Linked DNA regions of Homo sapiens: all the other regions are linked to region 1. Evidence: fine-mapped expression QTL. A gene starts in region 1. Each other region holds a variant in brackets. All regions are shown on one strand. Distances are between the middles of the regions.

Region 1 (4,968 bases):
TATATTGCCCAGGCTGGTCTCAAACTCCTGGGCTCAAGCTATCTGTCGGTCTTGGCATCCTAAAATGCTAGGATTACAGGTGTCCACCTGGCCTATTATATTACTATTGTTAAAATGACATACAAGATATCCTAGTACCTTAAATAGACATAACATTTCTAAAGGCTAGTTACTCACTGTTAACTGAATTAAGTCCAAATTCCTTATCTGACTGCAACTTACTACCTCCCACTCCCTCCCACACTATCTCTCTTAGCAACCCTATAATTATTTTCAAAATCATGTTCTAGAACAACAAAAAATGTGCAAAGATTAGGATTGTTTTACATTTTTGCTAATTTCCTTAACGTCTGACTTAATACAGTAAGACTCTCTCTCTCTTTTTTTTTTTTTTTTGGTTTTTGAGACGGAGTCTCACTCTGTTGCCCATGCTGGGGTGCAGTAGTGCGATCTTGGCTTACCACAAACTCCACCTCTCGGGTTCAGTCGATTCTCCTGCTTCAGCCTCCCGAGTAGCTGGGATTACAGGCACGCGCCACCATGCCCGGCTAATTTTTGTATTTTTAGTAGAGATGGGGTTTCACTATGTTGGCCAGGCTGGTCTCGAACTATTGACCTCATGATCCGGCTGCCTCAGCCTCCCAAAGTGCTGGGATTACAGATGTGAGCCACTGCGCTTGGCCTCTCTCTCTCTCTTTTCTAAGACAGTCTCTTGCTCTATCACCCAGGGTGGAGTGCAGTGACACTATCACAGCTCACTGCAGTCCCTAACTCCTAAGCTTAAGCGATCCTCCCGTCCTCTCAGCCTCCCGTGTAGGTGGAAGGATGCAGCTAACTTTTTATTTTTACTTTTCTAGAAAAGTGGGTATCTCACTTTGTTGCCCAGGTTGGTAGTTAGATTCTCATGTCTGCTTCTGTATTCAATCTGTAGCAATATCACCCGTCGATTTTCCAGAGGCTTCTAGAAAATTCCATGTACTCTCCTGACTCAGAGAATGAAAAAAGCAAAATCATCTTTATATTATTATAAAAATAGTATAATTATAAAAATAGGATTGACATTAAAGATTACCCCTAGATCCCTGGAGCATATTTGGGGAACTGGCTGGTTGGAGTATGTTATTCCATTGATGACCCAACCTAGATTGTCCGGACTTGCCTCATTTTTCTCCTAACTGGAAGTGACAAGGCAGGCAGCTCTAGCCTCATGACAAGCGTGGTGGCTCACGCCTGTAATCCCAGCACTTTGGGAGGCCGAAGCAGGTGGATTACCTGAGGTCGGGAGTTCATGACCAGCCTGATCAACATTGAGAAACCCCGTCTCTACTAAAAATAAAAAAAAAACTTAGCCAGGCACTGTGGCGCATGCCTATAATCCCAGCTACTTGTTGGGGGCAGAGGTAGGAGAAGCGCTTGAACCCGGGAGGCGGAGGTTGTGGTGAGCCGAGATCGCGCCATTGCACTCCAGCCTAGGCAACAAGAGCAAAACTCTGTCAAATAAATAAATAAATTAATTAATGAAAAAGAGGGCATTATGGATCTAATCTACTGTTGTATTTCCTGTATTTTCTACACAGTGGGCATTCAGTGACCACCTGTTGAGTGAGTTCATGGCATCCAAGTGCACAGCCACCTAAGGCATCGGGCCTCATGAAATCACAAGCAGCCAAGGCTGGCAGGTTCCTGGGACAATTTAGCAAACTCAAGGCTATGGTGCGGGTGGGTGCAGTGGCTCATGCCTGTAATCCCAACATATGGGGAGGCAGAGGTGGCGGATCACCTGAGGTCCAGGAGTTCAAGACCAGCCTGGCCAACATAGTGAAACCCCATGTCTATTAAAAGTACAAAAATTAGCCGGGCATGGTGGTGCACACCTGTGGTCCCAGCTACTCGGGAGGCTAAGGCAGGAGAATCGCTTGAACCTGGGAGGTGGGAAATGGGGGTACAGTGAGCTGAGATCACGCCACTGAACTCCAGCCTGGGCGACAAGAGCGAAACTCCGTCTCAAAAAAAAAAAAAAAAAAAAAAGACTACGGTGCTAGGACCAATCTCCTGAGTCACAAAATTTAAGGAGTCGTCCAAAAAAGTAAATAAGATAAATATTTTCAAACAATATTAGAAAATTCAAATCGGAAACTACCGACCGGGTGAGGAGTTGTTTTTGTAAATAAGGTCTTATTCCTAATAAGTTTCGAAAGTCTAAATCTTCACACGAGTCACTCAAAAGAAAGGCCCAGCTCAGGAGCCTGCATCTGCGCTATGGCGGGTAAGCCCCGGTGGCTGACCGGAAGAAGCGCCCACGGAGGCGAACCCCAGGCGCCCCTCAGCCTACTTCCATTTCCCCTCGCGACCCTTCGCCCCGCCCACTCTAGCTGGCTGTGCCTGACTGGCTGGGCTGCCGCATATTCGCGCTGCCATTGGTCCATAATCAGCTGGGGGTGGGCGTAGGGAGACCTACTTCAGCAGGTCCTGGCCGGACCAGCATTGTTAACGGCTGCGGTTCGAAGTGGCTGTGGGTATTGCTGCGGCTGGTGCGTCGTCGCTCTAGGTACGTTGGGGCCGGGCGAGTGTCCTGCGAGAGCGGCGATTGGCGGGGTGGCGGCTCTAGGAGCGTCGGTCGCCTCTCTGAGGGCCGGCCCCGGAGGCCTCGGAGCGCCGGGCCTACCGGACGTTTGCGGCGAAGCTGCCCTGACTGAAAAGCGTCCGCGGGGCCGTCTGACAGGTCCGGGAAGAGGCCCCTGAGGGGCGGACGGGCGCGTCTCCACCGTTTTCGCAGAGGGATACTGGTGAAGCGGGAGTGGTGTGCGGCCTCAGGTCCGGGCGGCACTGGGGTTAGGGACTGCGGAGGGAAGTGGTGCGTGTTTTTTGTCCTGAGGGGTAAGTAAAAGCTCGCTCTTGTCCGGAATGCTTTCAGAAATTAACGGATAAATCTCCACCTCCACCAATTTTAGTGTCCCATTGCCAAATTTTCTTGAGTTGTTTTAATCATCTAATGAAGTCAGGTGCCAGAAGGCAACTGGATCTCGCCTGGCGGCCTTGAAGTTTGTTAAAAAGTAGGGACCAGAGCATCAGGAAAAATACAAAATTCTGAGTAAAATGCTGAAATCCCGTACCTCTGAGCTTGCCGGTGTAAGGATGGTAGGATTTAAGGAAGACGATTTCCTTAAGGTAGAAGTTCGTTTTTATGAATATGTTTTTAAGAAAATTCCATCTTATCGCCCTTCTCTAACCAGTTTTCTCCAAGTTTGGCAAGCAAGTTTGAGAAAGAGAGGACGCAATAATTTTTTTTGCCTTATTTTTGTTAAAACCTTACCGCACTTAAGGAAACGGACTTTCTACCTTTCCGTGTTTCTGTGTTGAAAATGAAGTTTCTAACCACGTGTTCCTTCCTTTACGACACAATGGCTTTTTCTGTTCTGAAGACTTGCATATGGTTAATATGTATGGAAGAAGAGGACAGTTGTACTGAATAGTCCACATTAGAAAAATTATGTCATATTCACTTAAATTGTTATTCTAGATTGCGACTTAATACTGTTTTTATTATGATTTTGTCATATTTATTGTAGCCAGTAAATGACCTGCGACATAACTATTTGCAAAACAAATGGGGAAGACCAAGATAAAGATAAGTTATATCACAGGAAAGCAATTGAAAATGCAAAAATGAAGCATCTGAATGAAGGACTAATAACACTGAATTCAGCTTTTGTGAAGTATGCCTTTCTTCTTAGCTCGTTTATTCTGCAATACGTTTGTAGAAGTGTTGACTCCGATCTTAATCAAATTTACTTCACTCTCAGTCTTATCTGCAGATATGTACAGACCACATCCTAAGATTGACTTCTGCCTCAACAGAAATACATGAGCCAGTGCCTTATTGGAAATGATTTGCGTGTTTTAAGAACTGGTGTATATAGGTACATCTTGAATGTTCTGCTTTCCTTGCCTTATGCCTGTACTTCACCTCAGCCTTCAATTCCATTGTGTTTCCTTGCTACTTGGTATCTTGAAATCTGGTACGAAACTATTGCATGATCCCTGCACCTTTGCTTCTGCATATATCATAGCTCTCTTATAGTGAGTGTGCACAATCTATTTCATTTGATGTAATCAAAGTTTAATATATTGGATAGTTAAAAATAAAATACAACTTTAAATGCGCAAGAGTATTAGTTCTCATTGTTGAGCGAGATGATACAAAATACCAAAAAATCTTATTCTCTCATTCTATGTCAGTCTATTTTACTCCCCCCCCCTCCCCCCGCCACCCGGACACACACACACTGCGGTGACTTATCTATCTCGTTTATTTTATTTTATTTTACTTATTTATTTTTCTTTGTGAGGCAGAGATTCGCTCTTTGGCTCAGGCTGGAGTGAAGTGGCGCGATCTCGGCTCACTGCAACCTCCTCCCTCCGGGTTCAAGTGATTCTCCTGCCTCAGCCTTGCAAGTAGCTGGGATTATAGGCGCCCGACTAGTTTTTGTATTTTTAGTAGAGATGGGGTTTCACCGTGTTGGCCAGGCTGGTCTCGAATTCCTGACCTCAGGTGATCAGCCCGCCTCTGCCTCCCAAAGTGCTAGGATGACAGGCGCTAGTCTTAGCGCCCGGCCTATCTCATATTTTTATATCATTTAGATAATTATTCTGCTTTACAGTAGACTAGGATAGTTTTTCATCTTCATTTTTACCAACGATGGGACAGATTGGAGTCAGCCAGTGTCTAGAGAGAAATAACCATGACTTTTTGGAGGAAAGGGAGATAATATATTGGATTTTTTTGAACTTCTGATTAAGCCATGAAATGTTTAGAGAGGTGTTACTGAAGTTAGCCATGAATTATTTAGAGGCATTATATGTGTCTACTAAATGTGGTCATAAGTTTCATTAGTATACCTCTGAGGCTCTAGTGTGTACAGTATGCTGATGTGAAATAGCTTATCAGATAGCCATGGCAAAAGTTGC
Region 2 (4,968 bases), 56 kb before region 1:
CCCACCTGTCCTCTGCTAAGTTAGGTATTATAGAGCCCCCAATTTTTATGTATTAGTTATTATTATTATTATTATATTTTTGAGATGAAGTTTCACTCTTGTTTCCCAGGCTGGAGTGCAATGGTGTGATCTCAGCTTTTTGCAACCTCTGCCTCCTGAGTTCAAGCGATTCTCTTGCCTCAGCCTCCCGAGTAGCTGGGATTACAGGCGCCCGCCACTAGGCCCTGCTAATTTTTGTATTTGTAGTAGAGACGGGGTTTCACCATGTTGGCCAGGCTGGTCTCAAACTCCTGACCTCAGGTGATCCACCCTCCTCGGCCTCCCAAAGTGCTAGGATTACAGGCATGAGCCACCATGCCCGGCCTATTATTATTTTTTTGAGACAGGGTCTCATTCTGTCACCCAGGGTAGAGTGCAGTGGTGCAATCATGACTCACTGCAGCTTCAACCTGGCCTAGAGCCCAGATTCTAACCACTGCTTTTGTCAGAGGCCTTAAAACCAGCATGCCTCCATCTTGAGTGAGGGCTAGGAAAATGAGGCTGGGACTTACGGGGCTGCATTCCCAGAAAGGTATTCCTAGCCTCTAGATGTTTACAGTTAAGGGAACAGATTGATAGTGTTTACCGAACAGACTCAGACTTGGGAGTGTCCAGATATCCCGATATCTGGAGAGCAAAGGCATCCCTAATTTTGGTTTAAAGATAATAGGCCTGGCATGGTGGCTCACACCTGTAATCCCAGCACTTTGGGAGGCTGAGGTGGGCAGATCACCTGAGGTCAGGAGTTCCAGACCAGCCTGGCCAACATGGCGAAACCCCGTCTCTACTGAAAATACAAAAATTAGCTGGGCATGGTGGTAAACACCTGTACTCCTGGTTACTCGGGAGGCTGAGGCAGGGGAATCGCTTGAATCTGGGAGGCAGAGATTGCAGGGAGCTGAGATAGCACCACTGCAATCCAGCTTGGGTGACAGAGCAAGATTCTTTTTTTTTTTTTTTTTTTGAGACAGAGTCTCACTCTGTTGCCCAAGCTGGAGTGCAGTGGCCCCATCTCGGCTCCACCTCCCGGGTTCATGCCATTCTCCTGCCTCAGCCTCCCGAGTAGCTGGGACTACAGGTGCCCACCACCACGCCCAGCTAATTTTTTTAGTAGAAACGGGGTTTCACCACGTTAGCCAGGATGATCTCGATCTCCTGACCTCGTGATCCTCCTGCCTCGGCCTCCCAAAGTGCTGGGATTACAGGCATGAGCCACTGCGCCCGGCTGCAAGACTCTTATCTCAAAAAGAAAATAATAAAAATAGGCCGGGCATGGTGGCTCACGCCTGTAATCCCAGCACTTTCGGAGGCCAAGCTGGGCAGATAACCTGAGGCCTGGAGTTTGAGACCAGCCTGACCAACATGGAGAAACCCCATCTCTACTAAAAATACAAAATTAGCCAGGCATGGTGGTGCATGCCTGTAATCCCAGCTACTCGGGAGGCTGAGGCAGGAGAATCGCTTGAACCTGGGAGGTGGAGGTTGCAGTGAACCGAGATTGCACCATTGCACTCCAACCTGGGCGACAGAGTGGAACTCCGTTCAAAGAATAAAAAAAAAAAAAAAAAAAAAAGCCCCAGAACTTGTGACATTAACCTGTGCTTGCAGATGTGCTTGCTTACAGAAATGAAGGCCGGATGTCAGTAACCACAAACGAGCCACAGGATAAGAACTGTGGCTCCCAAGTCTGAGTCTGTATAGTAAACACTACCATCCTGCTACCCGGACCTGAATCCTTGCTTTTTCGCTGTATGAAAATATTCACCTGGGATGGGGAGAAATGTGCTTTGCTAGGCATATATAGTGCCAGTGGAAAAGAAAGAAGGAGACTGTGCATGCTCCAGTTCTCCCTGGAAGGTCCCACCTTTTTCCATAAATCACCACCCCCCAGTCTCCACCTACATGTTCTAAGAGACCTTAAAAACCCCCCTTCACCATACCCTCAGGGAGAAGGTGCTTTGAGCATGTGCTCTACTTCTCCATTTCTTTTCTTTTCTTTTCTTTTCTTTTCTTTTTTTTTTTTTTGAGACAGAGTTTTGCTCTGTCGCCCAGGCTGGAGTGCACTGGTGCAATCTCGCCTCACTGCAACCTCCGTCTTGCGGGTTCAAGCAATTCTCCTGCCTCAGCCTCCCAAGTAGCTGGGATTACAGGCACCCA[C/A]CACCATGCCCAGCTAATTTTTTTTATTTTCTGTACAGATGGGATTTCACCATGTTGGCCAGGCTGGTCTCGAACTCCTGACTTCAGGTGATCCACCTGCCTCAACTTCCCAAAGTACTGGGATTACAGGTGTGAGCCACCACGCCCGGCCTGAAATTTTTTTTTTTTATCAACACGGAACTCCAAAAGTTGAAACCTACTGGACAAAGAGTTTAGGAGAACCTGAGTAGAGTTTGGTGAAGAAGAGAATCTCTGTCACAGGTCATTTGAGTGTTTGAATAGAGCATTGTTCTACGCTTGACATCGGGGACTCTATCTTGGGCTACTGACCCCAGACTGAACTAATGATGAACTTTTTTTTTTTTTTTTTTTTTGAGACAGAGTCTCTGTCTCCCACGCTGGAGTGCAGTGGCACGACTATGGCTCAGTGGCTCACTGCAGCCTCAACCTCCCAGGCTTATGCAATCCTCCTGTCTCAAACTCCTGAGTAGCTGGAACGACAGGTGTGCACCACCACACCCAGCTAATATTTTTGTATTTTTTGTAGAGACAGAGTTTCACCATGTTGCCCAGGCTGGTCTTGAACTCCTGGGCTAATCTGCCTGCCTCAGCCTCCCAAAGTACTAGGATTTTAGGTGTGAGCCACTGTGCCTAGATTGGGTGGTGGACTTTGAGACCCACAAAGAACTGTGAAAAACAGTTCTCTCACAAACAACCATGCTCTCGACAATATACAATACAAGGAATCTGGTCCTAATCTTTAGGGACAGTCTGTGTAGTTTTTTCCTAACTGACCCAAATGTACCCTTCCACTAATGACTAACAACTTCTTTGCTTAATCCATCAATAAAATAATCTGGTAATTTATGTCATCTGAAAAATTTCCTATAAGCCTTTCTTGTCCCTCTTGGGTGGTGGTCTCTGGGGCCTGGTTGCAACCCCCATTCCTGAATAAATGCTTATTTGCCTCTGACCTGTTGATTCCTTTTTTTTTCTTTCTTTCTTTTCTTTCTTTCTTTCTTTTTTTTCTGATAGTCTGGACAAAATCTGAACAGAATTTACAGAAAAGTAGAAGAGAGAATAATTGAAGCATCTCTTATTGGGTCAGGTGCAGTGGCTCACTCCTGTACTCCCAGAACTTTAGGAGACTGAGGCGAGAGTATCACTTGAACCCAGGAGTTCAAGACCAGCCTGGACAACAGAGCAACACCCCGTCTCTACAAAAAGTAAACAATAAATTAGCTAGGCTTGTTGTGCGCGTCTATAACCCAGCTACTCAGGAAGCTGAGGCAGAAGGAGCACTTGAGCCCAGGAGCCTGAGGCTGCAGTAAGCTATGATGGAATGACTGCACTACAGCCTGGGCAACAGAGTGAGACTTGTCTCCAAAAAAATAAAAATTTAAAAGAAAATCTTATCTCTGGATTGCCTCCTGTACTCCTCCTTCTATGTCAGCCTTGGAGGTGCGTGTTTACAGTTCCAAGGATCAGAAAGCCCATAATTTTTTTTTTTTTTTTTGAGACGGAGTCTCGCTCTGTGTCGCCCAGGCTGGAGGGCAGTGGTGTGATCTCGGCTCACTGCAACCTCCACCTCCCGGGTTCAAGCGATTCTCCTGCCTCAGCCTCCTGAGTAGCTGAGATTACAGGTGCGTGCCACCATGCCCAGCTAATTTTTGTATTTTTAATAGAGACAGGGTTTCACCATGTTGGTCAGGCTGGTCTCAAACTCCTGACCTTATGATCACCGGTCTCCTCAGCCTCCCAAAGTGCTGGGATTACAGGCATGAGCCACTGTGCCTGGCCTCAGAAAGCCCATGATTTTGTGCTATGAAATCAAAAGGCTGGACCTTGTAAAGGAGCCAGTGGTCACCTCCAGCTCCCCTTTAGCTCCTATGTGGGCTCTTTGGCTGGATCTAGACACCAAATTGACACCATGCAGATTAACAAAAGTATATACATTTTATTAGTTTTACCTGTACATGGGGGTCTTCATAATAGCGTGAAGTTCAAACAAGTGGCTAAAGATAGATGCTTGTATACTATTTGTACACTATTTAGATTACATTTGAGAAGAAATGACAGGAAAACCTGGCTAGGGCAATAAATTTTCTAGGGGAGTTGCTAGGAGATATATGGGGGTGTCAAACAGTGGAAGATAAAGATTGTTTCATTAAGTATGTTTATTCAGGTCCATCACAGTCCCCAATTCCCAGTCTCTGGTGATAAGGGCTATTTTCTCACCCTGGTATGTGACAGCCCTCCTCCCAGAGGAATTTTTATGGCCTGCTGCATGCACAAAGAGAGAGGTCAGTTAGCCCTTTTTAATTTTTTTTTTTAGAGCAAGGTCTTGCTCTTGCTCTGTCACCAGGCTGGAGTGCAGTGGCATGATCATAGCTCACTACAGCCTCAAACTCCTGGGCTCAAACCATCCTCTTGCCTCAGCCACTCAAGTAGCTGTGATTACAGGCATGCTCCACCAAGCCCAGATAATTATTTCACTTTTCTTTTTATAGAGATAGGGTCTTGCTATGTTGCCTAGCTGGTCTCAAACTCTTGGGCCCAACCAATCTTCCTGCTCGTGAAGAATCACATTCTTGGGCCCGAGCACGGTGACTGACACCTGTAATCCCAGCACTATGGGAGGCCAAGGCAGGCACATCACTTGGGCTCAGGACTTCAAGACCAGCCTGGCCAACATGATGAAACCCCTTCTGTACTAAAAACACAAAAATTAGCTGGACGTAGTGGTGTGTGCCTGTAATCCCAGCTACTCAG
Region 3 (4,968 bases), 47 kb after region 1:
GTGTCATGAAAATGGATATGATTTTCAGTAAGGTGATTATCTAAATATGGAGAGACAGTGTCAATGTTATTTTAATATTGTAAATAAATAACTTTAATTCAGTAGTAAATAACTTTTATTCACTAGAGAAATGCATTTAAATATGATGTCTTAAATTCCAGGATATGAAAGATGGCAAGTCCAGATAGAAGTAAACGGAAGATATTAAAAGCCAAAAAGACAATGCCCCTAAGTTGCCGGAAGCAAGTAGAGATGCTGAATAAGTCAAGGAATGTTGAAGCGCTGAAAACAGCAATTGGGAGTAATGTTCCAAGCGGTAATCAGAGTTTCAGTCCTAGTGTCATAACTAGGACGACTGAAATAACCAAATGTAGCCCTTCTGAAAATGGTGCATCCTCATTGGACTCTAATAAAAATTCAATATCAGAGAAAAGTAAAGTATTCTCTCAGAATTGCATAAAACCAGTAGAAGAAATTGTTCATTCAGAAACAAAATTGGAACAAGTTGTTTGTTCGTACCAAAAGCCAAGTAGAACAACAGAATCCCCCAGCAGAGTCTTCACAGAAGAGGCAAAAGATTCACTGAACACTTCTGAAAACGATTCTGAGCATCAGACAAATGTAACAAGATCCCTTTTTGAGCATGAGGGGGCTTGTAGTCTAAAGTCCAGTTGCTGTCCACCCAGTGTATTGAGTGGTGTTGTTCAGATGCCAGAGTCTACAGTAACCAGTACCGTGGGTGACAAGAAAACTGACCAGATGGTTTTCCATTTAGAAACAAACTCCAATTCAGAATCACATGATAAAAGGCAAAGTGACAACATTTTATGTTCAGAAGACTCAGGTTTTGTGCCTGTTGAGAAAACACCTAATTTGGTGAATTCAGTCACTTCTAACAACTGTGCTGATGACATTTTGAAAACTGATGAGTGTAGTAGAACCAGTATTTCAAATTGTGAAAGTGCAGACTCAACATGGCAGTCATCACTTGACACTAATAACAACAGTAAGTATATACTTATGCACCTTTTAGAAAAATTAAAATAGTCACTTTTCTTTAGGGTATTTTAAAGTCTCAAATATACAAACCAGTATAGACAGAAAAAAGGTAAATGATGACAATTATTTCACAGTATCTTGTTTCTGAACCATTCTTAGTGAGGTGGGGGACAGGTATCCACCATATTAAAAGGGTAATTATTGCAAAGAAGGAATCAATCACTTTTCCTTAAGTACAAAATATCAAAAGGTGGTTTATAGCAATTATTTGGTTCATTTCATATACATCTCTTCTTATTTTGAAGTTTTATTAGATTAAGAAGGAGGCTAGTTGAAAGAGTGAGTTTTAAAAATTGTTGGTAACCCTATTTCTTTTTTTTTTTTTTTTTTTTTGAGACGGAGTCTCGCTCTGTCGCTCAGGCTGGAGTGCAGTGGCGCGATCTTGGCTCACTGCAACCCCCACCTCCTGGGTTCGAGTGATTTGCCTGCCTCAGCCTCCTGAGTAGGTGGGATTACAGATGGGCACCACTACGCCCGGCTAATTTTTTTTTTTTTTTTTTTTGTATTTTTAGTAGAAACAGGGTTTCACCATGTTGGTCATGCTGGTCTCGAACTCCTGACCTCGTGATCCACCCGCCTTGGCCTCCCAAAGTGCTGGGATTACAGGCGTGAGCCACTGTGCCCAGCCAACCCTATTTCTTTCTATAGAATTGACCTGTAAATCACATGCTAAGTATGATAGATAATATATTCACACATGTGTATATGTGTGTGTAGAGAAAGAGAAGCACCCCAAATAATAAATGAAGTCCTTGGGTTATAACATCATTAAAATAGCAAAAGTGAATTTCATTTGAAGTAGGGTATTTTGTTAATGAAATAGAAAAAAACTGATTTAATGCTATAAATTTTGTGTTCTTGTCTAGACTACAGAATGGTCATTTAACAAGATGAATTTAAAATTCCTTAAAAATAATAACAGTATCATCTATTTCAAATATGTATAATAGGCTGGGTGTGGTGGCTCATGCCTGTAATTAACAGCACTTTGGGAGGCCGAGGCAGGAGGATCGCTTGAGCCATCCAGGCTAGCCTGGGCAACAGATCCAAGACCCTGTCTCTTAAAGAAAAAAAAAGAAGCCGGGCGCTGTGCCTAACGAATACAATCCCAGCACTTTGGAAGGTTGAGGCAGGTGGATCACCTGAGGTCAGGAGTTCAAGACCAGCCTGGCCAACATGGCGAAACCCCGTCTCTACTAAAAATACAAAAAAAATTAGCCAGGCGTGGTGGTGGGCACCTATTATTATTATCGCAGCTACTTGGGAGACTGAGACAGGAGAATTGCTTGAACCTGGGGGGCGGAAGTTGCACTGAGCCA[A/G]GATCGTGCCACTTCACTCTTGCCTGGGCGACAAGAGTGAGACTCCTTCTCAAAATGAAAAAAGAGTACCTTTATATAAAATAACGTAGAACCACTTAAGTCACTATAAATAGAGAATTAAATGCCATAATTTGTTAAGTTTTTGTTCGTATATGTGTATTGAGTTATTAAGTAAGATTAAAGGGACAGAGTATCTGAGACCAGAACCCTACCTAAGATAACTCATTTTTTTTCAAGGTTAGTTTGTGGGTACGTATTTATGCAATTGAATGTTCTAAAAAATGCTGCAGTGTCACATTTTAGTTTTTCCATTTGCTCAGAGGGTCTCTAAATTAGAGAATTCCTATTTCCTTCTCTTTTTTCCTCCTTGAAACAGGGTCTCACTGTGTTGCCCAGGCTAGAGTGCAGTAGTCAAGGTGCTCACTGCCACCTCAACCTCCCAGCCTCAAGCAATCCTCTCACCTCAACCTCCTGAGTAGCTGAGACTACGGGCATGCCCCACCATACCCAGCTAATTTTAAATTTTTTGTGGAGATGAATTTTCACTATGTTGCCCAGGCTGGTCTTGAACTCCTGGCCTTAAGCCACCCTCCCTCCTTAGCCTCCCAGAGTGCTGGGATTACAGACATGAGCCACCACACTGAACCTGTTTTTTTCTTTAAAATATCTTTCTTTCTAATCTTTTGATCTCCTCAAGGCCATTATCAAAAGAAGAGGATGTTTTCAGAAAACGAGGAAAATGTTAAACGCATGAAAACTTCAGAGCAAATTAATGAAAATATTTGTGTAAGTTTGGAAAGGCAAACAGCATTCCTGGAACAGGTAAAATATTGGGGCTTAAATGGAACTTTTACTTTTGATTAGTAAAACATGGTAAAAGTTAATTATCTGGTCCCCACAGTGGCATAATACAGACGACTTTCACTTGCTGCAGAGCTGGTGTGTGAAAGCCAAATTATCAGACAGACTGGGGAGAGATAACTACTTACATTACCAAAACAGCTCTGGTTTCTTGAAAATGGTCTCATGCAGAATAACCTAGGGATCATGTGTAGGTAGAGTCCTGTTGCAAAAAGAGAATGGGCTTTCAGTCAGTATTACACTCATATTTGTCTGTAAGTCAGACACTGCATGACCTTCAGCTTTATTAAAGAATCCAGTCTCTTTTGTACTAGTCATGGGGTTCTTAGATCTGCAGCTCTATCCATTTGTAGATCTCACCACAACCCAGAAGACTCAAACAACCTGGAAGTCCATTGCAAAGTCCCTGTGCATTCAGGTTTACTTGCCCTATTTTCCAAACTTAAACGGATATGGTACATTATCTGACATTTTGCTGTATAGCATCATTAAATACACTTCTTGCTTTCATTGTGGCCTCATTTTATCTCATTGTACTACAGTCTCAGTATGCGTTTGATCAATTGTTAGCTGAAGTGTATGTAGCGTGTTTCAGTTCTAGTAGAATGGTTATACTGAGGACGGGTTTTGATGACCATGTTTTCCTATTTCACTACCACTAGAATGCCACCACTACAAATCATTACCTAGTAGACTAATGTCTTCCAGCTGTAATGGACCGAAATTTCCCCGTCTAAACTACCCTGCAAACTGTTTCAGAAACAGAAACACTACCATTTTTTAAAACAGACCATTACAATTACATAGTTACATATACTATGAATGTGTATTCTTCACCTAATAATAAGGGAAAATAAAGGGAAAGAGTTACGCAGAACCAGCTTAAAGGGCGAGTCAACAGTTTTTCTGTGTCTCCCTTTTGGTTTTCTTCGAAGAAGACCAAAGGAGACAGTAAAAAATATGTAAGTGTTCTGTTGTTGGCAGGGAAAGGGTAGAAGTATGGTAAGCATGGATCCTAGCCCTAAGGACCATGTTATTCAAGAAGAAGGTTGGGGATTCCAGCTGTGTCTTGTTTCCAGTAATTAGTAGCTGAAGTGAGAAGTAAGTTTTTGTTTGTTTGTTTGTTTGAGGCAGAGTCTCACTTTGTCACCCAGACTGGAGTGCAGTGGCACAGTCTCGGCTCAGTGCTACCTCCACCTCCTGAGTAGTTGGGACTACAGGTGTGCACTAGCACACCCAGCTAACTTTTTGTGTGTATTTTTAGTAGAGACAGATTTTACCATGTTGGCCAGGCTGGTCTTGAACAGCAGTTTCAGTGATCCGCCCGCCTCGGCCTCCCAAAGTGCTGGGATTACAGGTGTGAGCCACCGCGCCCAGCCAGAAGTAACTTCTGATGTGTACATAACCATCTCTAAATAGCTAGCTTTTCCTCACTTCTTATTGCTGTCCAAACAGTTGTCTCTCTCAACCATATCTAGATGTTTACCTTGTTTGAATCTCAATGAGATAGCCCTCCCCGTCATTCTGACATTGTTCTCCCCTACTGAAGGAGTCCTGCAGTGATCATTTCTTAGCCTTTTGAGGTTTCATAAGGAGCATGGCCGGGTTAATTCCAGTTAAATTACTGAAGAGGAAGGGTTTTTCCTTTACAGTCTTAAGTTATTCACTCTACCCATTATCTCAGAAAGTTGGCACAGATTGGAGATAAGTTTGTACTTTCTCCAAACTT
Region 4 (4,968 bases), 86 kb after region 1:
AAATAGAAATTTGGATCTGTACAAAGTAATATAGACTGACAGACATTGTAAATATGTTGGCAAATAGAAAATATTTTTGTTTCTTTATAGTGTATACACACAACACACTCTATATAGAAACACTACATCCTATATATATGTAGAATATATAGTTTAGAAATTATATATATACACACACACAAGCAAGAAACAATTGGAATTTGAAATTTAAAATGGATGCCATTTACAATGACTTCAGAGAACATAATATATTTAGGGATAAACCAAAACCACCTAACCTAAAACTACAAAGTATTACTGAAGAAATTAAAGGAGACCTAAATAAGTGGTGAGATATGTAACTTTCATGAATTCATTAAGATGTTACTTCACCCCAAATTGTATATCTATCAATGCCTCAGCCGTTTTTGTAGTAAGTAACAAACTGATTAAAAACTTAAGGCCAGGCATGATGGCTTACACTTATAATCCCAGCATCTTGGGAGGCCAGGGCAGGAGGATCACTTGAGGTCAGGAGTTCAAGACCAGCCTGGCCAACATAAAAAAACATTTTTAAAAAAATTTTTTTAAAAAGTTAGCCAGGCCTGGTGACACATGCTGTCATCCCAGCTACTTAGGAGGCCGAGATGAGAGGATCTTTTGAGCCCAGAGGTTCAGGCTTCAGCAAGATACATTTGCACCACTACACTCCAGCCTGGGAGACAGAGCACGAGTCTGTCTCTTAAAAATATATATATATGTATATATATATATGTGTGTGTGTATATATATATATATGTGTGTGTATATATATGTGTGTGTGTGTGTGTGTGAATATATATATGAAAATGCAGAGACCCAGAAGATGAAAACAATGTTGGGAAAGAAAGTTAGAAGACTACACTATCTTTGTTCAAGACTTAACTATAAAGGTGTAGTATTAAGACAGTGGTGTTGGCATAGGGATAGGTATGTTGACCAGTGGACACACTAGAGACTGCACATGTAGTTCATTGGTTTACAACAAAGGTACCGATGTAGTTTAACAGGAAAAGATGTTCTTTTCAAAAATGTTGCTGGAATAGAGGGAAAAGTGAACCTCAGCTCTTACTTCATACCATAAACAAAAATTAACTCAAAATGGATCATACACCTAAGTACAAACAGTAAAAACAGAAGATGTCTGCAAGAAAATGGTATAATTGGACTGGGCGCAGTGGCTCACACCTGTAATCCCAGCACTTTGGGAGGCCAAGGTGGGCGGATCACCTGAGGTCAGGAGTTCAAGACCAGCCTGACCAACATGGTGAAACCCTGTCTCTACTAAAAATAGAAAAATTAGCCGGGCATGGTGGCATATGCTTGTAATCCCAGCTACTGAAGAGGCTGAGGCAGGAGAATCGCTTGAACCTGGGAGACAGAGGTTTCGGTGAGCCAAGATTGCGCCACTGCACTTCAGCCTGGGGGACAAGAGCAAAACTCCATCTCAAAAAACAAAAAAGTCGCTCATAAAAAAAAAGGGTCAAAATGGCTTGAAATATTCTATAACCGTAATCAGCATCATTTATCATCATTGTCTCAAATTTGTGGTAAATATTGCTACTGGAGAGATAAAATGAAGAGTAGTAGCAGTTCTTTTTAAAATAATTTTCTTTGTTATAGTTTTCTACCTTTAGGAGTCCAGGTGTCTTTATGGGTCTTAATAGATTTCCTTCATTACATGATGTTTCATTTTTATAGAAGTAAGTATATACGCTCAAAGGAATTTGTATGTTTTATACATTTATGTCCATTGTATACTTATATATATTTTGAGTCATTGTGAAAGACCCATAAAATGTAGTAGGGATCTAATTATTGGATTTTGATGAATCTTTAGTCATATAACGGAACTGGTAATAAATGGAGTTTTTTTGGGTATTTGGTTTTATCATTTCTATTTCCCCCCACGATTGTTCAATTAAAACATTATGAAATGTTAAGTTAGAGGACTCCTAACCACTAATTGCATGTTTAAGCCTGATAATGCATGTTTAGTTTTTGTTTTTAATTTCTTTTTATCATTTTAGTAACAATGATGATGTTATGTTGATTTCTGTGGAAAGTCCTAATTTGACAACTCCAATTACATCAAATCCAACAGGTATCTTATAGCTGATTAGAATATGATCTATCAAGTTAGAAGGCCTTAAATCAATGTTTGCTTTAAAGTGAAAAATTGAATAATATCTTTTAATAAAATGAAAAAGTTAAATGTACTCTCAAATGTTCTAATTTATATCATGGTTAATATTACCTAAATAAATGATTCCTTAATGTAATTGAGATTTCATTTTAACCTTGTGTTTTATCAGTTTAGGGCCTTTTGTTTCTTTTATGTGTTTAATGACTTTATAACTTGTAAAAACTACTTATTTTTAATGGTTTGCCCTGGCCTTTTTTTGATGGTAGTGACGGTTTGTTTTTTGTCTTCTTATTTTTTATCTATTAAGTTATCTTATAGTCTACTTAAGATTTAAAATTTGTCTAGTCAGTCTGGGTGTGGTGGCTCACACCTGTAATCCAAGCACTTTGGGAGGCTGAGGCAGGCAGATCACCTGAGGTCAGGAGTTCAAGACCAGCCTGGCCAACAAAATGAAACCCCATCTGTATTAAAAATACAAAAATTAGCCAGGCATGGTGGCAGGTGCCTGTAATCCCAGCTACTCTGGAGGGTGAGGCAGGAGAATTGCTTGAACCTTGGAGGCAGAGACTGCAGTGAGCTGAGATCGTGCTACTGCACTCCAGCCTGGGCAAAACAGCAAGACTCCGTCTCAAAAAAAAAAAAAAAAAAATTTTAACCTTACATTTCCAATGATAACTTTTCTCTCTCTCAAAAATACCCATCTTGTTTGGCTCATAATTTCTTATTCAAAATTCCCCATTTTCATTTCATTTTCTACTATGTTAAAGTATTTGCATCTTAATTTTAAAGCTTTGCCTCCACTTAATAGCTACTTAATTGTCCCCACAATTTGGGCTAAGATTGTGAATCAGAGAATTACAAAGGATGTTAATCATTTATCTTAGGCTTCCTACTGGTTCCAGGAAGAGTGCTTCTCAGCCATGTCAGGCAGTTGTAGTCTAAA[A/G]ATACTGTGAATTAAAAGTGTGTGCATTTCCAGGTGTATTTTCTCATGGAAATTTCTAGGTAGATTTTCAAAAAAAGAGTTACTAATATAGTTGCAAAGTTACAGAAAGACAAAATGGTTTGACCCAAAATTACATTTTTTTAAAAAAATTTCATTCAGTCTTTGGAATAGGTAAAGTCAATTGAGTTACTTTTTATCACTGTATAATTAACAGCTAATTAGCATCCCTATTATTTTGTTTTAGCATTCATATTTCACAAAGCCCATAAATATTGTGTAATAAATTTGTCAAATGTCTAATTTCTTTCAGATACCAGAAAAATTACATCAGGAAATTCTAGCAATTCTCCCAATGCTGAAGTTATGGTGAGTAATAAATATTGACTCTGAATATTGTTTATTTAAATATGTTAGTTCAAGGAACTTTAGTGTTTGCTACATGTTGGATGATTTAGTTTTAGTCCACGTTACACACTGAAAAGCAGACAGCTAATGATAAGCATAATTCATAACGATACTCATTTACCAAATTCATTTACATTCTCCTTAGTCATATTCTCAGAAACCATTTAGTATTTTATAAGAGCTTTTTAATAGTAGAGTTAAACCACAAGAGACTTAGAGAATGTTCCATCTCTAGTTTCCGAATGGTGATTTAAAATTACCATTTAAAATTACCAAATGGTTTTAAATTTTTAAAAACATTTTCAGCTATTGAGGCAAAGCTTTTTTTTTTTTTTTACAATTTTTTTAGGCTGTACAGAAGAAACTTGATTCTATAATTGATTTGACAAAAGAAGGCCTATCCAACTGCAATACAGGTAAAAGGATTTTTTAGATCTTTCTTTTGTAAAAAGGAGGGAAGGGTAACAACTCATAATGCACTGGGTCTACTTATGAAGTTTGTTTTAATATGTGAGTGTGCCTATGTTTATATCTCTGTGCAGTTTTAGCTCATGTGCAGATTCATGTAACTGCCGTCACAGTGACAAAGCTCCTTCATGCTACCCCTTTATACTCACACCTTGTTTCTGCCCCAATCCCTGGCAGCCACCAATCTGTTCTGTACTATAATTGTTATTTCACAAATTTACATAAATTTGATAATGCAGTATGTGTCCTTCGGAGATTGACTTCTTCCGAGGGTCATCCACATTCTTGTGTAACAGTAGTGTGTTCCTCTTTATTGCCAAGAGTAGCCCGTGGTGTGGATGCATCATAATTTCTTTATTCATAAACCCATTGAAAGACATCTGGCTTGTTGGGGACTTTTACACATTTATTTTCTTCCTGTGGTACATACTTTTTTCCCTAACCACAACAATAGCAGCTAAGAGGACGCACAGAGAAACAGAAACTGGGGTATAACATGAAAATGTAGACAGAGAGTGACAACAGTGTCTGTCGTCTTTCACAGATTTAAGGAAAAAGAAGTGAAATACAGTCGTGGGGCTGGGGATCAGTTATAAGGTCTCATTGGAATTTAATGAAAAGTATAAACCCACATACCCAAGGTGTTTAAAAAACTCCAGGATAAACACAAAAGAATTCATACCAAGACATAACATAGTCAAGTTCCTGAAATCCAGTGATAAGGAGAAAAATGAAGATACAATGCAGGTGAAAGAACAAAGAATTCACAGGTTTCTAGGCTAGAACAATGCAAGCCAAAAGACAATTGAATGACTTCATTAAAAGGTTGGGGGAAAATAACTGTCAACCTGTAATTCTTTATCTAGAAAATATGGCTTTCAAAAAAGAAAGCAACTTTGGGAGGTCAGGGCAGGAGGATGGCTTGAGGCCAGCAGTTTGAGACCAGCCTAGGCAACATAGGGAAACCCCATCTCTACAAAAATAAGAA
Region 5 (4,968 bases), 920 kb after region 1:
AAGTGTCTGATCTTCTTCCCCACAATGTCATATAAAATATCAGCAAGACCCTCAGTGGTGGATGTGAACTTATTAATTATATACATTATATTCATTTCCCAACGTTGTGGTAACAAATTCCCACAGACTGGGTGGCTTAAAACAATAGAAATGTATTCTCTCATGGTTCTGGAGGCCAGAAGTTCAAAGTCAAGGTGTTGGCAGGCAGGGCTGGTTCCTCCCAGAGGCTCTAGGGGAGAATCTGTTCCATGCCTCTCCCTAGCTTCTGGGAGCTGCTGGCGACCCCCAATGCTCCTGGGTGTGGAGATGCATTAGTCACTCCAGTCTATGCCTCCCTCTTCACAAGGCCTCCTTTCCATTGTCTTCTACCCTTCTAAGTACACTTGTTGTTGGATTCAGGGCCCACCCTAATCCAGAATGATCTCATCTCTAGATCCTTCACTTAATCATGTTTGCAAAGATCCTATTTCCAAACAAAGTCACCTTCATAAGGCTTTGAAAGGGGTTAAGATGTGAACTTATCTTTTTGGGGCCAGTACACATGGGACACAGATGAGTGCCAAAAGGAATCCCAGGAAGCTGTCAAAAGCAACAATAAGGATGTGAATAAAAGTAATATCTTAGGCTGGGTATGGTGGCTCACACCTGTAATCCCAGTGCTTTAGGAGGCCAAGGCAGGAGGATCACTTGGGCCCAGGAATTTGAGACCAGCCTGGGCAACATAGTGAGACCCCACCTGTACAAAAAAGTTTAAAAATTAGCCAGAGGTGGTGGCACAAGCCTGTAATCCCAGCTACTTGGGAGGCTGAGGCAGGAGGATCATTTGAGGCCAGAAGTTCGAGACCTGCCTGGGCAACATAGCAAGACCCCATCTCTACAAAAAATAAAACAAAAATTAAATAGTAATATATTGGCATATGGCCCAGCACCTGGCATATGACAAGTACATATGTATGTATATATGTATGTGTATATTATATATATATATACACACACACATACATACTTTTCTTATATCTATAAAGTTTTCAATCTCAGAGAAAATGTTTGGATGCGCTGGTTTTGCCCAGTTTCAATGTTTTCCCAAACACTAGCAGGTCTCCTCCATCTCTCTTGACTTTGTTGAAACACCTTTAGTCTCGTTTTCTGTTTGGCAGATGGCCAGTGTTCCTGCAGCTGCTTCAGGTCTGTACAAGCCCCACTTGTGGACACTTTATCTGCAAAGGGGGCCCCTGATTTTTCCAGCCTGGGGCCTTTCCTCCTGCCTCTCTTGGCCCAAGATGCCTCCACCCTCCGCCTTTCACCTGTTGAGACGCATTTTGTAAAATAAGTTTGCCCTCTGTCTGCCCTTGTTACAGTAGGCAGTCAGACATAAGCAGGGCAGGAGAGGGTGCCCCCCAACCAGGACTGTCAGGCCACCATCAGGTGATGGTCAGGTGATTTAACTGTCTCTCCAAAATAATAATTGGTTGTAGCCAGCACTGAGGAAAGGCAGGCTCCCAATAGATTAAAAAACACCAGAAATATGATCAGCAGCTTTGCGATAAGATCTCAGAGTTGGCTCAAGCATGCATACTAAGAGGCAGAATGGCAGAGTCTGGTCTGTGACCTGCTTCTAGGAACGCTGGACTGGTAAGGGAAAAACGCCTCAAGTGAGCATGCGCACAACTTCAGTAAACACACTGCGCATGCTCCCCTCCCAAGGACAGGCAGGCCACGGCTAAGGGGACGGCCCACCCCAAGGGAAGGATCGGGAGAAGTAGTGCAACCCTGGAAGCGTGCCAGCATATAAGACCTCAAGTCAAATGGCAAAGTGGGCAGTTGACTCGTTCAAGTCGCCCGCCTGGCACTCTTCCAAGTGAACTTGACTTCCTTTCATTCCTGCCCTAAAACTTTTTAACAAATGTTCACTCCTGCTCTAGAGCTTGCCTCTCTTTGCCTTATGCCCCCTGCGTCGAATTCTTTCTTCGGAGGAGGCAAGAATTGAGGTTGCTGCAGACTCGTATGGACTCACTGCCGCTAACACACACTGGTGCCCTGTGACTCAGATATGTTCCCTAGTGCTAACATTCCCAGCTCCAAAAGAACTGGGTCAAGTCTGTCCTGTTTACATTGCTGGGTCCTTGTGCTGGAAAAGGAGCCCCCACCCGCCCCCACTCCACAAAACCATTTCCAATAGTCTTGAGATTTCTCACCCTGCCCCGACCCACCTTTCTGACTCCATCTCCCCCACCCCTCCACATGCGTTATGTTTCAGTTGCCGGAATTGAAATCACGTTGCCGTTCCCTCTGCCTGGAATGCTTTTCTGCATTAGGGCATGGCTGATGCCTTCCTAGCTTCCAGATCTCAGCAAAGTGTCCTGGGGCTGCTGTGCCTGGAAGGGACACATTTTGGGTGCCTCCTTACATTATCCGCCCATACCACTGGACAATCGGGTGCTCTGTCTTGCCTCTCTGTGTGCTAGCTGCTTCTCTCCACCAAATCACAATATCCTTAAGAACAAGGACGTTGTTTTGTTCATGGCTTCAGTCCCAGCACCTAGCAAGTCGTAAGTGCTTAGAAAATAATGTGTTCAGAGGCCAGGCGCGGTGGCTCACACCTGTAATCCCAGCACTTTGGGAGGCCGAGGCGGTCGGATCACGAGGTCAGGAGAT[C/G]GAAACCATCCTGGCTAACACGGTGAAACCCTGTCTCTACTAAAAATACAAAAAATTAGCCGGGCGTGGTGGCGGGCGCCCGTAGTCCCAGCTACTAGGGAGGCTGAGGCAGGAGAATGGCATGAATCCGGGAGGCGGAGCTTGCAGTGAGCCAAGATTGCTCCACTGCACTCCAGCCTGGGTGGCAGAGACAGACCTTGTCTCAAAATAATAACAATAATAATAATAATAGTGTTCAATGTGTGAATTACATCATTCTCTCTCTCTGAAACAAGGGATTCAACTTACGGGTCATGGGTAGATTTCATGGTAGAGAATCTCCTAAAGTTGTAGGCAAAATATGGTCCCTGTGGAAGCATTTTTCTCACTGTGTCCATTTTAGGGGTCAGCATTCCCCAAAGACAGAACCTTCGCTTTACTTAAGTAATACTGCCTACCCCTGCAGTCGTCCTCTCCTTCCATTCTTGTTTCATTCTACTTGTTATTAAACATACACCAGGCCTCCTGTGCCAGTAGTTAAGGACACCAAACCATATGAGGGAAAGTCTCCGTCATGGTCATTTGGGTCTCACAGTGCCACGCATGCAGTCAGCATCTCATTCGTGCTGCCAAATGGAGGAAGGAAGTCAGATTCCACTTCAGCTGCGGAACCCCGGGCTGAAATGTTGCCTGTAATATCTACCCTGGAATCCCCAAGCAGAGAAAGCAGCATGAGTCTCAGCACTGGAAGCAGATGGAACCACCTGGAGGTTTCTACAGATCGTGGTGCCCCACCTCAGGCTACTTGGATCAGTGTGTCTCAGTTGGGGCACCAGCATCGGTATGTTTTAAAAGCTCCCGGGCCTGGCTGGGCGTGGTGGCTCACACCTGTAATCCCAGCACTTTGGGAGGCCGAGGCGGGCGGATCACAAGGTCAGGAGGTCGAGACCATCCTGGCTAACACAGTGCAACCCTGTCTCTACTAAAAATGCAAAAAATTAGCCAGGTGTGGTGGCGGATGCCTGTAATCCCAGCTACTTGGGAGGCTGAGGCAGGACAATGGCATGAACCCAGGAGGCGGAGCTTACAGTGTGCTGAGATGGCACCACTGCACTCTAACCTGGGCGACACAGCGAGACTCCGTCTCAAAAAAATTACAAATAAAAATAAAAAGTTCCCGAGGCATGCGATGGAATATTATTCAACAACAACAAAAAAGGAATGAGGTTCTGAGAACTGATTTTAAACCACGATACTACATTCAAACTACACCATGAGTGAACGTGGAAAACACGGTGTGTGGAAGAAGGCAGGCACAGAAGACCACTTATTATATGGTTCCATCTATGGGAAATGTCCAGAATAGGCAAATTCGTGGAGACAAAATTAGATTAAGCCTGGGCAGCATAGCAAAACCCCATCTCTATAAAAAGCAAAAAAATCTGGCCAGGCGCAGTGGCTCACACCTGTAATCCCAGAGATTCGGGAGGCCGAGGCGGGCAGATCACTTGAGGTCAGGAGTTCAAAACCAGCCTGGTCAACATGGCAAATGCTGTCTTTACTAAAAATACAAAAATTAGCTGGGCATGTTGGCACATGCCTGTTTTCCCAGCTACCCAGGAGGCTGAAGCAGGAGAATCGTTTGAACCCAGGAGGTGGAGGCTGCAGTGAGCTGAGATCACGCCACTACACTCCAGCCTGGGTGACAGAGTGAGACTATCTCAAAAAACAACAACAACAACAACAAAACCTTTTGTACACCCATGTTCATAGCAGCACTATTCACAATAGCCAAAATGTGGAAGCAACCCAGATGCCCATTAATGGGTGAATGGATGAACATGATGTGGTTTATATTAGGTTGGTGCAAAAGTAATTGTGGTGTTTGCCATTGAAAGTAATGACAAAAACCGCGATTACTTTTGCACCAACCTAATACACATTGCTATGGTCTGAACGCTTGGGCCCTCCGGCAATGCATATGATGAAATTCTCACCCCCACTGTGATGGTGCATTAGGAGGCGGGGCCTTTGGAAGGTGATTAGTTCATGAGGGCACAGCCCTCATGAATGGGATTAGCACCCTTATAAAACAATCCCATGAGAACGGGTTCACACCTTTCGCCATTAAAGATCCAACAAGAATCCTTCTTTCCGGTCTGTGAACCAATAAACAGGCCCCCAGCAGACATTGGATCTGCCAGCACCTTCATCTTGGACTTTTCAGCCTCCAGAACTGTAAGAAATAAACGTTTGGCCGGGTGCAGTGGCTCATGCCTCTAATCCCAGCACTTTGGGAGATCCGAGGCAGACAGATCACCTGAGGGAAGGAGT

Direction of the effects. Positions count from the first base shown, and alleles are read on the strand shown. Sizes are in standard deviations (SD) of each study's normalised expression. Not every link is listed here.
For the expression in whole blood of the gene that starts at base 2,487 in region 1, A is the high allele of the variant in region 3 and G is the other (small effect, 0.27 SD a copy in Lepik 2017).

Evidence for each region. PIP is the estimated chance that this variant, and not a neighbour inherited with it, causes the effect.
Region 2: its variant is the best candidate, but not a certain one, in a credible set for the expression of ATF7IP2 in whole blood (INTERVAL, PIP 0.68).
Region 3: its variant is the best candidate, but not a certain one, in a credible set for the expression of ATF7IP2 in whole blood (Lepik 2017, PIP 0.64).
Region 4: its variant is the best candidate, but not a certain one, in a credible set for the expression of ATF7IP2 in blood mononuclear cells (TOPMed, PIP 0.52).
Region 5: its variant is the best candidate, but not a certain one, in a credible set for the expression of ATF7IP2 in whole blood (INTERVAL, PIP 0.84).

What each region holds. Positions count from the first base shown.
Region 1 is chr16:10,383,575-10,388,542 of GRCh38, forward strand. ATF7IP2 (activating transcription factor 7 interacting protein 2) reads left to right here and starts at 2,487. Exons shown (of 14, transcript NM_001393719.1): 1 at 2,487-2,548. RefSeq lists a silencer at 2,226-2,365.
Region 2 is chr16:10,327,998-10,332,965 of GRCh38, forward strand. No RefSeq gene overlaps it. Among named protein-coding and RNA genes, the nearest start is that of ATF7IP2, 56 kb to the right of the region's middle. RefSeq lists silencers at 1,555-1,849, 3,562-3,762. The variant C/A (reference allele first, on the strand shown) is at 2,197.
Region 3 is chr16:10,430,450-10,435,417 of GRCh38, forward strand. It overlaps ATF7IP2 (activating transcription factor 7 interacting protein 2), which reads left to right. Exons shown (of 14, transcript NM_001393719.1): 5 at 162-1,006; 6 at 3,076-3,200. The coding sequence starts at 172. Among named protein-coding and RNA genes, the nearest start is that of ATF7IP2, 47 kb to the left of the region's middle. The variant A/G (reference allele first, on the strand shown) is at 2,379.
Region 4 is chr16:10,470,062-10,475,029 of GRCh38, forward strand. It overlaps ATF7IP2 (activating transcription factor 7 interacting protein 2), which reads left to right. Exons shown (of 14, transcript NM_001393719.1): 10 at 2,049-2,122; 11 at 3,418-3,473; 12 at 3,862-3,928. Among named protein-coding and RNA genes, the nearest start is that of LINC01290, 56 kb to the right of the region's middle. The variant A/G (reference allele first, on the strand shown) is at 3,108.
Region 5 is chr16:11,301,955-11,306,922 of GRCh38, forward strand. MIR548H2 (microRNA 548h-2) reads right to left here and starts at 4,573; the gene lies at 4,486-4,573. The region is part of intron 1 of LOC105371082 (a long non-coding RNA gene); the gene reads left to right. The variant C/G (reference allele first, on the strand shown) is at 2,656.